2 separate regions of the Homo sapiens genome follow, and region 2 is linked to region 1. The links come from fine-mapping of genetic effects on gene expression. A gene starts in region 1. The other region holds a variant in brackets. All regions are shown on one strand. Distances are from middle to middle. Region 1 holds the start of NUDT13 (nudix hydrolase 13). Region 2 overlaps PPP3CB (protein phosphatase 3 catalytic subunit beta).

Region 1 (5,387 bases):
CTGAGCTATTTTTATTATTATAGCACTTAACAATTACTACAAAAAGTTATTTTGACTTTTTAAATTATTAGAGCCCCAATTTCCCCCTAAGCATCCTTAGAATCCATTGACTTTATATCTTGTTTCCCTACAATTTTCTGTGTCTTCCTTAAGGATAATGAACCAATCTGATTTTTTTTTTTTTTTTTTCAGACAATGTCTCGCTCTGTCACCCAGGCTGGAGTGCAGTGGCGCAATCTCAGCTCACTGCAACCTCTGCCTCTCGGGTTCAAGCGATTCTTGTGCCTTAGCCTCCCAAGTAGCTGGGACTACAGGTATGTGACACCAGACCTGGCTTAATTTTGTATTTTTAGTAGGGTTTCACCATGTTGGCCAGGCTGGTCTAAAACTCCTGACCTCAAATGATGTGCCCACCTCGGGCTCCCAAAGTGCTGGGATTACAGGCATGAGCCACCATGCCCGGCCTACTCTGATCTCATCTCTGATCACCATGCTCTTTCCTAGCCTTTCCTCAAACGGCACACTCCCACCCCAGGGCCTTTGCATATGCTTATTTTGCTCTGTCTACAAATCTCTTTCCATAGATATAAATTTGGTTTCTTCATCACCTTCTTCAGGGTCTTTGTTTAAATATTATCTTAACAATGAGGCTGACCATCCTATATAAAATAGCAAAATAATCCCTCTACTTATCTTGCTTTATTTTTCTTCTTAAGCTTTATAACCACGACACATTGTATATTTACTCGTTTGTTTCCCCTTCTAGAATGTAAGTTACATGAGGACAGAGATTTTCATGTTTTGTTCCCTGCTGTATCCTATCCCTATAACAGTCCTAGGCACATTGGGTACTCATTAAATACATGTTGAATGAGTGGACTTCTTCTCTTGGCTGGGTGCGGTGGCTCACGCCTGTAATCCCAGCACTTTGGAAGGCTGAGGCGAGTGGATCACTTGAGGTCAGAAGTTTAAGACAGCCTGGTCAACATGGCGAAACCCTGGCTTTACTAAAAATACAAAAATTAGCCAGGCATGGTGGTGTGCACCTGTTATCCCAGCTGCTCGGGAGGCTGAAGCAGGAGAATCACTTGACTCCGGAGGAGGAGGTTTCAGTAAGCCAAGATTGTACGTACCACTGCTCTCCAACCTGAGCGACAGAGCAACTCCATCTCAAAAAAAAAAAAAGTGTCTTCTCTCATAGGCAAGTAACTTCAGTAGTAAAACGAGAAGAGAGCAGCACCAAAGTAGCTCTGCTGAGAGGTGAAGCCAGCTGGACTTCCTGGGTGGAGTGGGGACTTGGTGAACTTTTCTGTCTAGTTAGAGAATTGTAAATGCACCAATCAGCACACTGTAAAAATGCACCAATCAGCACTCTGTGTCCAGCTAAAGGATTGTAAACACACCAATCAGCACTCTGTAAAAATGCACCAATCAGCGCTCTGTGTCTAGGTAAAGGATTGTAAACGCACCAATCAGCACTCTGTTTCCAGCTAAAGGATTGTAAACACACCAATCAGCACTCTGTAAAAATGCACCAATCAGTGCTCTGTGTCTAGCTAAAGGATTGTAAACACACCAATCAGCACTCTGTGTCTAGCTAAAGGATTGTAAATGCACCAATCAGCACTGTGTCTAGCTAAAGGATTGTAAACGCACCAATCAGCACTCTGTAAAAACGCACCAATCAGCACTCTGTGTCTAGCTAAAGGATTGTAAATGCACAAATCAGCACTCTGTCAAATGGACCAATCAGCACTCCATAAAATGGACCAATCAGTGCTCTGTAAAATGGACCATTCAGCAGGATGTGGGCAGGGACAAATAAGGGAATAAAAGCTGGCACCCCCAACAGCAGCGGCAACCTACTCGGGTCCCCTTCCACGCTGTGGAAGCTTTGTTCTCTCGCTCTTCACAATAAATCTTGCTGCTGCTCACTCTTTGGGTTCGTGCCACCTTTAAGAGCTATAACACTCACCGAAAGCTCCACGGCTTCATTCTTGAAGTCAGCAAGACCAAGAACCCACTGGAAGGAACCAACTCCGGACACACTTCTAGGAGACTACTTCCAGTCAAATGGAATGCGCTTCCTCTGATCAAGAAATGAATCCTACCATAAGTTCAAACATATCTATACATACCTATACAGAGTCCCATCCTTTTAAATTGGAAGAACTTCATGAAATTTTAGAGCTAGTTCTAAAGTGTGCAGAGAGAGAACTAGAGATATACTAAGGTTAAAAGGTATTTGATTCCCACCCCTGCTTCATCCTCTCCCCAGCCTCATAATATATGCCTTCTGTGTATGAGGGTGGACTTAATGACTTTATCTTTTTTTAATTAAAAAATGGATCTAATACTAACCTACTTTCTCCAAGGATACAGTAGTTCTCTTGGTAATAAGATCTTAGATGTTCATGCTTTTGACAATCATGGTTAACTTGCAGCTGGAGAACACAGCAGCATGCCTGGGAACTGAACTACAATTCCCAGAGTGCATCTCTAGGAGGATTCTGGGAAGTGTGGCAGAAGCAGCAATGGTCCCTCCAGGGAACGGAAGCCGTTGAACGTGAACATTTGGAGTTTCCTCTTTTGTGCTGATTCCTGAGGACTAGGAAGGTGCCCCGAAAAGAATTCAGAGTGAGTACAGTGAAACAGAAACCTGCTCAGCTTCTAAGTGCAGGAAGGACTTCACAGGGAGGCATGATCAGAACTTGAAAAAAGGTCGTGGTCACAGCATTTTAACATTTTAGCTTAATCTCTTCCTTTTTGCAGAAACCAGGGATATAACCATAGTTTTGCCTCATAACTGTGGAGCTACATCAGTAACCACAGCTCATCATTTTCTGATACTTTTTTGGAGAGTCATTTAAAAATGGAACTTGCCAACCTCTCACATTGTGCCTTAATTTTTATTTTTTTTTAAAGGAGGGAAAATTATTTTTTAGAAAGCAAACTATAAAGCAGGTCAGTGAGACCTTCAAAGCTGTATTCCCGTGGTTCCTCAGTTTTCCATATTTCCCTGTCCCATGGAGGTCCACAGTCGTGGAGAAACGGACTCTAAACACAGGCGAAGTATCACTTGGTCGCCCAGGCTGGAGTGCAGTGACACGATCTCCACTCACTGCAAGCTCCGCCTCCTGGGTTCATGCCATTCTCCTGCCTCATACTCCCTAGTAGCTGGGACTACAGGCGCCCGCCACCACGCCCAGCCACTTTTTTTTGTATTTTTAACAGAGACGGGGTTTCACCGTGTTAGCCAGGATGGTCTCGATCTCCTGACCTCGTGATCCGCCCACCTCGGCCTCCCAAAGTGCTGGGATTACAGACGTGAGCCACCGCGCCCGGCCTAAAAAAAGGTCTCTTAAATACTAGGGAACCTGGCCTCTTCACGGTGGAAGTAACCACTAGATTCAAGATGGGCTTTTTTTGTTTTGTCTTGTTTTGTTTTGTTTTTTTGTTTTGAGACGGAGTCTCGCTCTGTCGCCCAGGCTGGAGTGCAGTGGCGCGATCTCGGCTCACTACAAGATGGGCTTTTTTGTCACGCTGTAGTACTTTATAATCTTTCTTCTGGAAAGATGAACAGGATAAGAAACGTGTGAATCATTTGTGTTGGGGAGTTCAAAGAAACTCTTAATGTTAAAGCACCTTGCCTCATCATTTAGTAGTTGGGTAAGACTGCTATTACCTTTCATCTCTATCAAACATTGTACTTTTAAAAACATAAATAGCTCTGTGACCATCAGCTCATGAGTCAGCAGCCATGATAATCTACAACTGGCTAAGGTTAATTTAGTAGCAGAAACTAGGCAAAACATCAGGCAGCAGTTCCCAAGGTCCAAGAAACTCACCAAATGAATTCCCTTTGGCTCATGGAATATGGTGAGGTGTTTTGGGGAACAGTGGCATGGAGGTAGCCTCATTAACCAGTTAGTCTCAGGAACTACTATTTTATTAGGCTTTTCTTTTGTCTTAAAAGGAATAAGTACACATGGCTAATTTTTTTTTCAGTACAGAAAAATGAACAAAATAAAAATTACAGGCACCTTTTTCAATATTTGTCTTCATCCCACTCCCCCAAATTAGTCACTCTTTAATAGTTTGGTATGTATACTTCTAGTCATTTGAAAAATATAAATAAGGCCGGGGGCAGTGGCTCTTGCCTGTAATCCCAGCACTTTGGGAGACCCAGGCAGGCAGATCACCTGAGAACAGGAGTTCGAGACCAGCCTGACCAACATGGAGAAACCCCATCTCTACTAAAAAAAATACAAAATTAGCTAGGCGTGGTGGCGTATGCCTGTAATCCCAACTACTCGAGAGGCTGAGGCAGGAGAATCGCTTGAACCCGGGAGGTGGAGGTTGCGGTGAGCCGAGATTGCGCCATTGCACTCCAGCCCGGGCAACAAGAGCGAAACTCCGTCTCAAAAAAAAATAGAAAGAAAAATATAATTAAATACATATAATTTATGTATATTGGTATGTCTGTGTCCTTTTTTTTATAAATAATTAGGTCATGTTAACCAACTGTTACCTGTTTTTTTCTCCAGCTTTATTAAGGTATAATATTAAGGTATTAAAGTATAATATATACTTTTTGACAAAAAAAGTATATATTTATAGTTTACAATGTGATGTTTTGATACAGGTATACATTGTGAAATGATTAAATCTAGCAAATTAATATATTCATCACCTCACATTTTTTGTGTGTGTTGAGAATATTTAATATCTACTTTCTTAGTAATTTCCAAGTATATAATATATTATGAACTATAGTTACCATACAACACAATAGATATCCAGAATTTATTCATCCTAACTGAAACTTTGTACACTTTGACTAGTATCACCTCCAATTCCTCCTTGCTTTTTTTGTTTACTTAATAATGTGTTCTAAGTCTCTCTCCCTGTTACTATATATATATATTTTTTTCACTGTTATATTATTTTCTATTTGTTCTTTTTCTTTTTTTTAAGACGACGTTTTGCTCTTGTTGCCCAGGCTGGAGTGCAATGGCACGATCTCTGCTCACTGCAACCTCTGCCTCCTAGGTTCAAGCGATTCTCCTGCCTCAGCCTCCCAAGTAGGCAGGATTACAAGCGTGTGCCACCACGCCCAGCTAATTTTGTATTTTTAGTAGAGATGGGGTTTCTCCATGTTGGTGAGGCTGGTCTCGAACTCCTGACCTCGGGTGATCCGCCCGCCTCGGCCTCCCAAAGTGCTGGGATTACAGGCGTGAGCCACCGCACCCAGCCCTTCTATTTGTTCTTAAGTCGCGTATTAATCCATTTTATCATAATTTTCAGTTAACGTTCTTGTACATATCCTTTCCTTCCTAGGGTAAATTCCTAAACATGGAATTGCTGAGGAAAAAGAGAGGCTTATT
Region 2 (5,387 bases), 350 kb after region 1:
CAAATAGTATTTTTATCCTCTTTTCTCTAACCAGTGTCCATATTTGCCAAGAACTACATCCTTTTAACACTTCAATTTTCCTTTCCTTATCTTCTTTCTTCCAAATTTCTCCTTTCCCAAAGTTCATCTTCTTCCCCATATTACAATAAAAAAATGAAATCACTGAAATTATTTTCAAATCTTAATATCCAAAAAAAGTAACTTGTTACTTATCAAATAGCATAGTCTCTGAAAGCAATGACTATTTTTTGCAAAATAGTGTGTACTGAGGCTAGGCAGTAAAGAAATACCATTTCACAGTAAAAAAAAAAATAGTAAGATGAATAATCATACCATCAAACTGGTCTTCACCTTCAGTCATTAGTTCATCATCAGAGCAAATACTCAGAACATTTACCAACATTTCTGTCACTATTTGGGAAAAAAAAGTTACATGTTAGCTGACCATATATAACTGTCTATACATACACATAGCAACTATTTTTACAAATGGTCAAATAATGTTTAGCCCAAGAAAGCAAACACATTCTTATACCAAGATCGATGGAATTTAAAAATGCAAAGGCTTTCAAAATGAAAGAAATTCAGTGGATAACAACTCTGAGAGAAAGAGATTCTTTATGGAACAAATTTTCAGGCCTCTCAAAAAAAAAAAAAAATGAAGCCCCATAGAGATAAGAACAGAGATGAATAACAACTGAATGTATACATTTCAAATCTTCATTCATGGATATAGCATAATAAGAAAAAAAATCATGGCAGAGTTTTAGTGGTTCCAAAAAGTCTCAGGATTTAATCTTTTTTTTTTTTTGGAGATGGAGTCTTGCTCTGTTGCCCAGGCTGCAGTGCAGTGGCGTGATCTCGGCTCACTGCAACCTCTGCCTCCCAGGTTCAAGAGATTCTCCTGCCTCAGCCTCCCAAGGAGCTGGGATTACAGACACCCATCGTCATGCCCAGCTAATTTTTGTATTTTTTTTTTTTCTTTTAGTAGAGATGGGGTTTCACCATGTTGGTCAGGCTGGTCTCGAACTCCTAACCTCATGATCCACCCGCCTTGGCCTCCCAAAGTGCTGGGATTACAGGCGTAGGCCACTGCGCCTGGCCTTAATCTTTTAAAAACTGGCTCAGCAACTCTCTTGAAATTTACTTCTAAAGATTACTAATGACTATCTAACAATCTGAACCCTTGGCTCTTTCATAGGCTTAATCCTCTTTGACTATTCTGTATATTTTTTTCCTTCTCTTTTCCCTTGGTTCCCAAGATTCTGCTCTTCTGGTTTTCCCACATTTGGATCATTTTTCCCCAAAACTTTGGATATCCTCAAGATTCTCTCTGCATTATTATTCCTCCTATATGTTCAATCACTTGGAATTTCTGTCTATTATCATATTTACAGTTTCAATTATCACCTCGTTGAAGATGACTCCAAAGTCTGTATCTCCAGTGTTGACCTCTCCTTCAGGCTCTAGATGTCCTTGGCTAGTTTTATTGTCAACTGTCTTTTTTTTTGAGATGGAGTCTCGCTGTCGCCCAGGTTGGAGTGCAGTGGCGCGATCTCGGCTCACTGCAGGCTCCGCCTCCCGGGTTCACGCCATTCTCCTGCCTCAGCCTTTTGAGTAGCTGGGACTACAGGTGCCCGCCACCTCGCCCGGCTAATTTTTTGTATTTTTTTAGTAGAGATGGGGTTTCACCGTGTTAGCCAGGATGGTCTCGATCTCCTGACCTCGTGATCCGCCCACCTTGGCCTCCCAAAGTGCTGGGATTACAGGCGTGAGCCACCGCGCCCAGCCTGTCAACTGTCTTAAACCATTTGTATACTGTATGTTTCCCCTACTAGAATGAAAACTTCATGAGTGTAGGATGTTGTTTAATTCACTATTATAACTTCAGAGCCTGGCACTGTGCCCTGGCACATGACAGGTACTCAATAAATATCTAACAAATAAGTACACAAAATAAGAAAGATAAAAGCAAATTTCAATTAATAAATAAAAATGTCTATTGAATATTAGCACCTAGATGTCCTGAAGGCACCTAGAAATGAACATATCCAAAACAAAATTCAATACTTCTACAAACCACTTTTTCCTGCTAATAAATATACTAAAAGCACCCCACATGTCAAGTACTACATTAAAGCTCTAGGATTCAGATATGAAAGGCACAGTCTCTACCTTCAACAAGCTTACTAACTACTGAAGGAGACATTAAATATCAACTGCAAAAGGTTGATGGAAAACATGCTGTAAGTGTTCAAAGATATGCAAAAGACCTGCTGGGGAAGACCTGCTGGGGAAGGCAAGGCTTTTGCTAGATAACATTTGAGAGGAATCATGAACTAGGAGTTTGCCAAGTGGAGAGGGCAGATAAGGCATTCTAAACAGAAGTTAAAAAAGTGATGTAGTAGTCATTTATCACAACAGAACAGAGAGTCCAGAAAGAAAACCTGATATTTAAGGTCAATTGATTTTTGACAAGGGTGCCAAAACAATTCAGTGGCTAAAGAACAGTCATTTCAACAATGGTCAACTACAAAAGAATAAAGCTGCAAATGGTCACATGCGAAAGAATAAACTGCACTCCCCCTACTGCACATCACATGCAAAAATTAATTCAAAATGGATCAAACACCTAATGTAAGAACTAAAACTCTCAGAAAAAAACGGGCAAATCTTTATGAGCTTGGATTAGGCAATGATTTCTTAGGTATAACAACAAAAACACAAGCAACAAAGGAAAAAACAGATAAATATGACTTCACCAAAATTAAAAAACTTTTTGAAAGAAGCCAGTCACAAAATACCATATACCATATGACCTTATTTATATAAAATGTCTAGCAAAGGCAAATCTATAGAGACAGAAAGATTAGTCTTTCTGATGGTTACACAACTCTAGAAATATACTAAAACCAACTGAATTGTATGCTTTAAATAGATGAATTGCATAGTATATATATTTCAATAAAGCTGTTACGATGTATACCTTAAATATACACAATAAAATGTATTTTTTTAAAAAATTAGAAAACTTTTGTGCTTCAAAGGACAAAAAAAATCAGGCATGGAAGCATGTGCCTGTAATCCCAGCTACCTGGGA[G/T]AATGAAGAAGGAGGATCACTTGAGCCTAGTAATTTGTGTGAGACCAGCCTAGGCAACACAAAGATCCCATCTCTAAAAAAGAAAAAAAAAAAAAAAAAAAAAAAAAAAAAAGCTAGTCATGGTAGGACATGCCTGTAGTCCTACCTACTTGGAAGGCCATGCGGTAAGACTGCCTGAGTCCAGGAGTTTGAGATTGCAGTGAGTTACGATTGCACTCCAACATTCTAGCCTAGATGATGGAGTGAAAGCCTAAAGGACATTATCAAGAAAGTGAAAGTCAGCTAGGCCGGGGGTCATGCCTGTAATCCCAGCATTTCAGGAGGCTGAGCAGGTGGATCACTTGAGACCAGAAGTTTGAGATCAGCCTTACCAACATGGTGAAACCCTGTCTCTACTAAAAATACAAAAATTAGCCGGGCATGGTGGCACATGCCTGTAATCCCAGCTACTTGGGAGGGTGAAGCAGGAGAATCGCTTGAATCTGGGAGGTGGAGGTTGCAGTGAGCCAAGATGGTACCACTGCACTCCAGTCTGGGTGACACAGCAAGACCCTGTCTCAAAAAAAAAAAAAAAGAAAGAAAGAAAGAAAGTGAAAGTGGAATGGGAGAAAATTATTTGTAAATCATATACGTAAGGGACTTGCATATAGAATATCTAAAAAACACAACTCAATAATTATCTCCCATGAAACAACTGAGACAGAAAAATACTGCATGTTCTCATAAGTGGAAGCTAAATAATATATGTACATGGAGGTAGAGTGTGGAATGATAGACAAAGGAGACTTGGAAGGGTAGAGAGGTGGGAGAGGTGTGGAAGATGAAATTACTTAATAAGTACAATGTATGCTAGTCTGGTGATAGATACACTAAAAGCCTTGACTTCACCACTATGCAATATATCTATGTAACAAAATTACACTTATACTTCATAAATTTATATAGACAACAAAAAAATGTTTTGTTTTATTTTTTAGAGACGGAGTCTCACTCTGTTGTCCAGGCTGGAGTGCAGTGGTGTGATCTTGGCTCATTGCAACCTCTGTCTCCCAGGTTCAAGCAATTCTCCTGCTTCAGCCTCCTGAGTAGCTGGGATTACAGGCACGCACCACCACACTCAGCTAATTTTTGTATTTTTAGTAGAGACAGGGTTTCACCATGTTGGCCAGGCTGGTCTTGAATTCCTGACCTCAGGTAATCCACCCGCCCCGGCCTCCCAAAATGCTGGGATTACAGGTGTGAGCCACCGCACCTGGCAAAAAAATTTTTTAATAAAGAAAATTTTAAGACAAATAACCCAATTATAAAATAAGCAAAGGATTTGAAAATATATTCATCCTCGGCTGGGTGTGGTAGCTCATGCCTGTCACCCTAGCACCCTGGGAGGCCAAAGCGGGTAGACTGCTTGAGCTCAGGAGTTACCAGCCTGGGCAACATGGCGAAACCCTGTCTCTATATTAAAATATACATGTATTTTCTATATTAAAATATATTTTACATATGTAAAGTATATGTTTATATATTAAAATGTATATTTATTAAAATATATATATTTTTTCATCCAAAGAATATATACACTGCTGATGAAACTGTAAAATGGTACAGCTAAGGCCGGGCGCAGTGGCTCATGCCTGTAATCCCAGCACTTTGGGAGGATGAAGTGGGACAATCACCTGAGGTCAAGAGTTTGAGACCAGCCTGACCAACATGGAGAAACCCCGTCACTACTAAAAAATACAAAATTAGCCGGGCGTGGTGGTGCGTGCCTGTAATCCCAGCTACTCAGGAGGCTGAGGCAGGAGAATCACTTGAACCCAGGAGGCAGAGGTTGCGGTGAGCCGAGATCGCACCATTGCACCCTAGCATGGGCAACAAGAGCAAAACTCTGTCTCAAAAACAACAACAACAATAAAATGGTACAGCTGTTTTGGAAAACAGTTTGGCAGATCCTTAAAAGGTTAATCATAGAGTTACAATATGACCCAGCAATTTCACTCCCAGGTCTATACTCAAGAAAATGAAAACATAGGCCGGGCATGGTGGCTCACGCCTGTAATCCCAGCACTTTGGGAGGCCGAGGCGGGTGGATCAGGAGGTCAGGAGATTGAGATCATCCTGGCTACACAGTGAAACCCTGTCTCTACTAAAAATATAAAAATTAGCTGGGCATGGTGGCGGGCACCTGTAGTCCCAGCTACTCAGGAGGCTGAGGCAGGAGAATGGCGTGAACCCAGGAGACGGAGCTTGCAGTGAGCCAAGATCGCGCCACTGCGCTCCAGCCTGGGCG

The links. PIP is the estimated chance that this variant, and not a neighbour inherited with it, causes the effect. A credible set is the group of variants that fine-mapping cannot tell apart.
Region 2: its variant is the best candidate, but not a certain one, in a credible set for the expression of NUDT13 in whole blood (TOPMed, PIP 0.57).

What each region holds. Positions count from the first base shown.
Region 1 is chr10:73,107,931-73,113,317 of GRCh38, forward strand. NUDT13 (nudix hydrolase 13) reads left to right here and starts at 2,525. Exons shown (of 9, transcript NM_015901.6): 1 at 2,525-2,637.
Region 2 is chr10:73,454,079-73,459,465 of GRCh38, forward strand. PPP3CB (protein phosphatase 3 catalytic subunit beta) reads right to left here. Exons shown (of 14, transcript NM_021132.4): 10 at 334-411. Among named protein-coding and RNA genes, the nearest start is that of MSS51, 23 kb to the left of the region's middle. The variant G/T (reference allele first, on the strand shown) is at 3,101.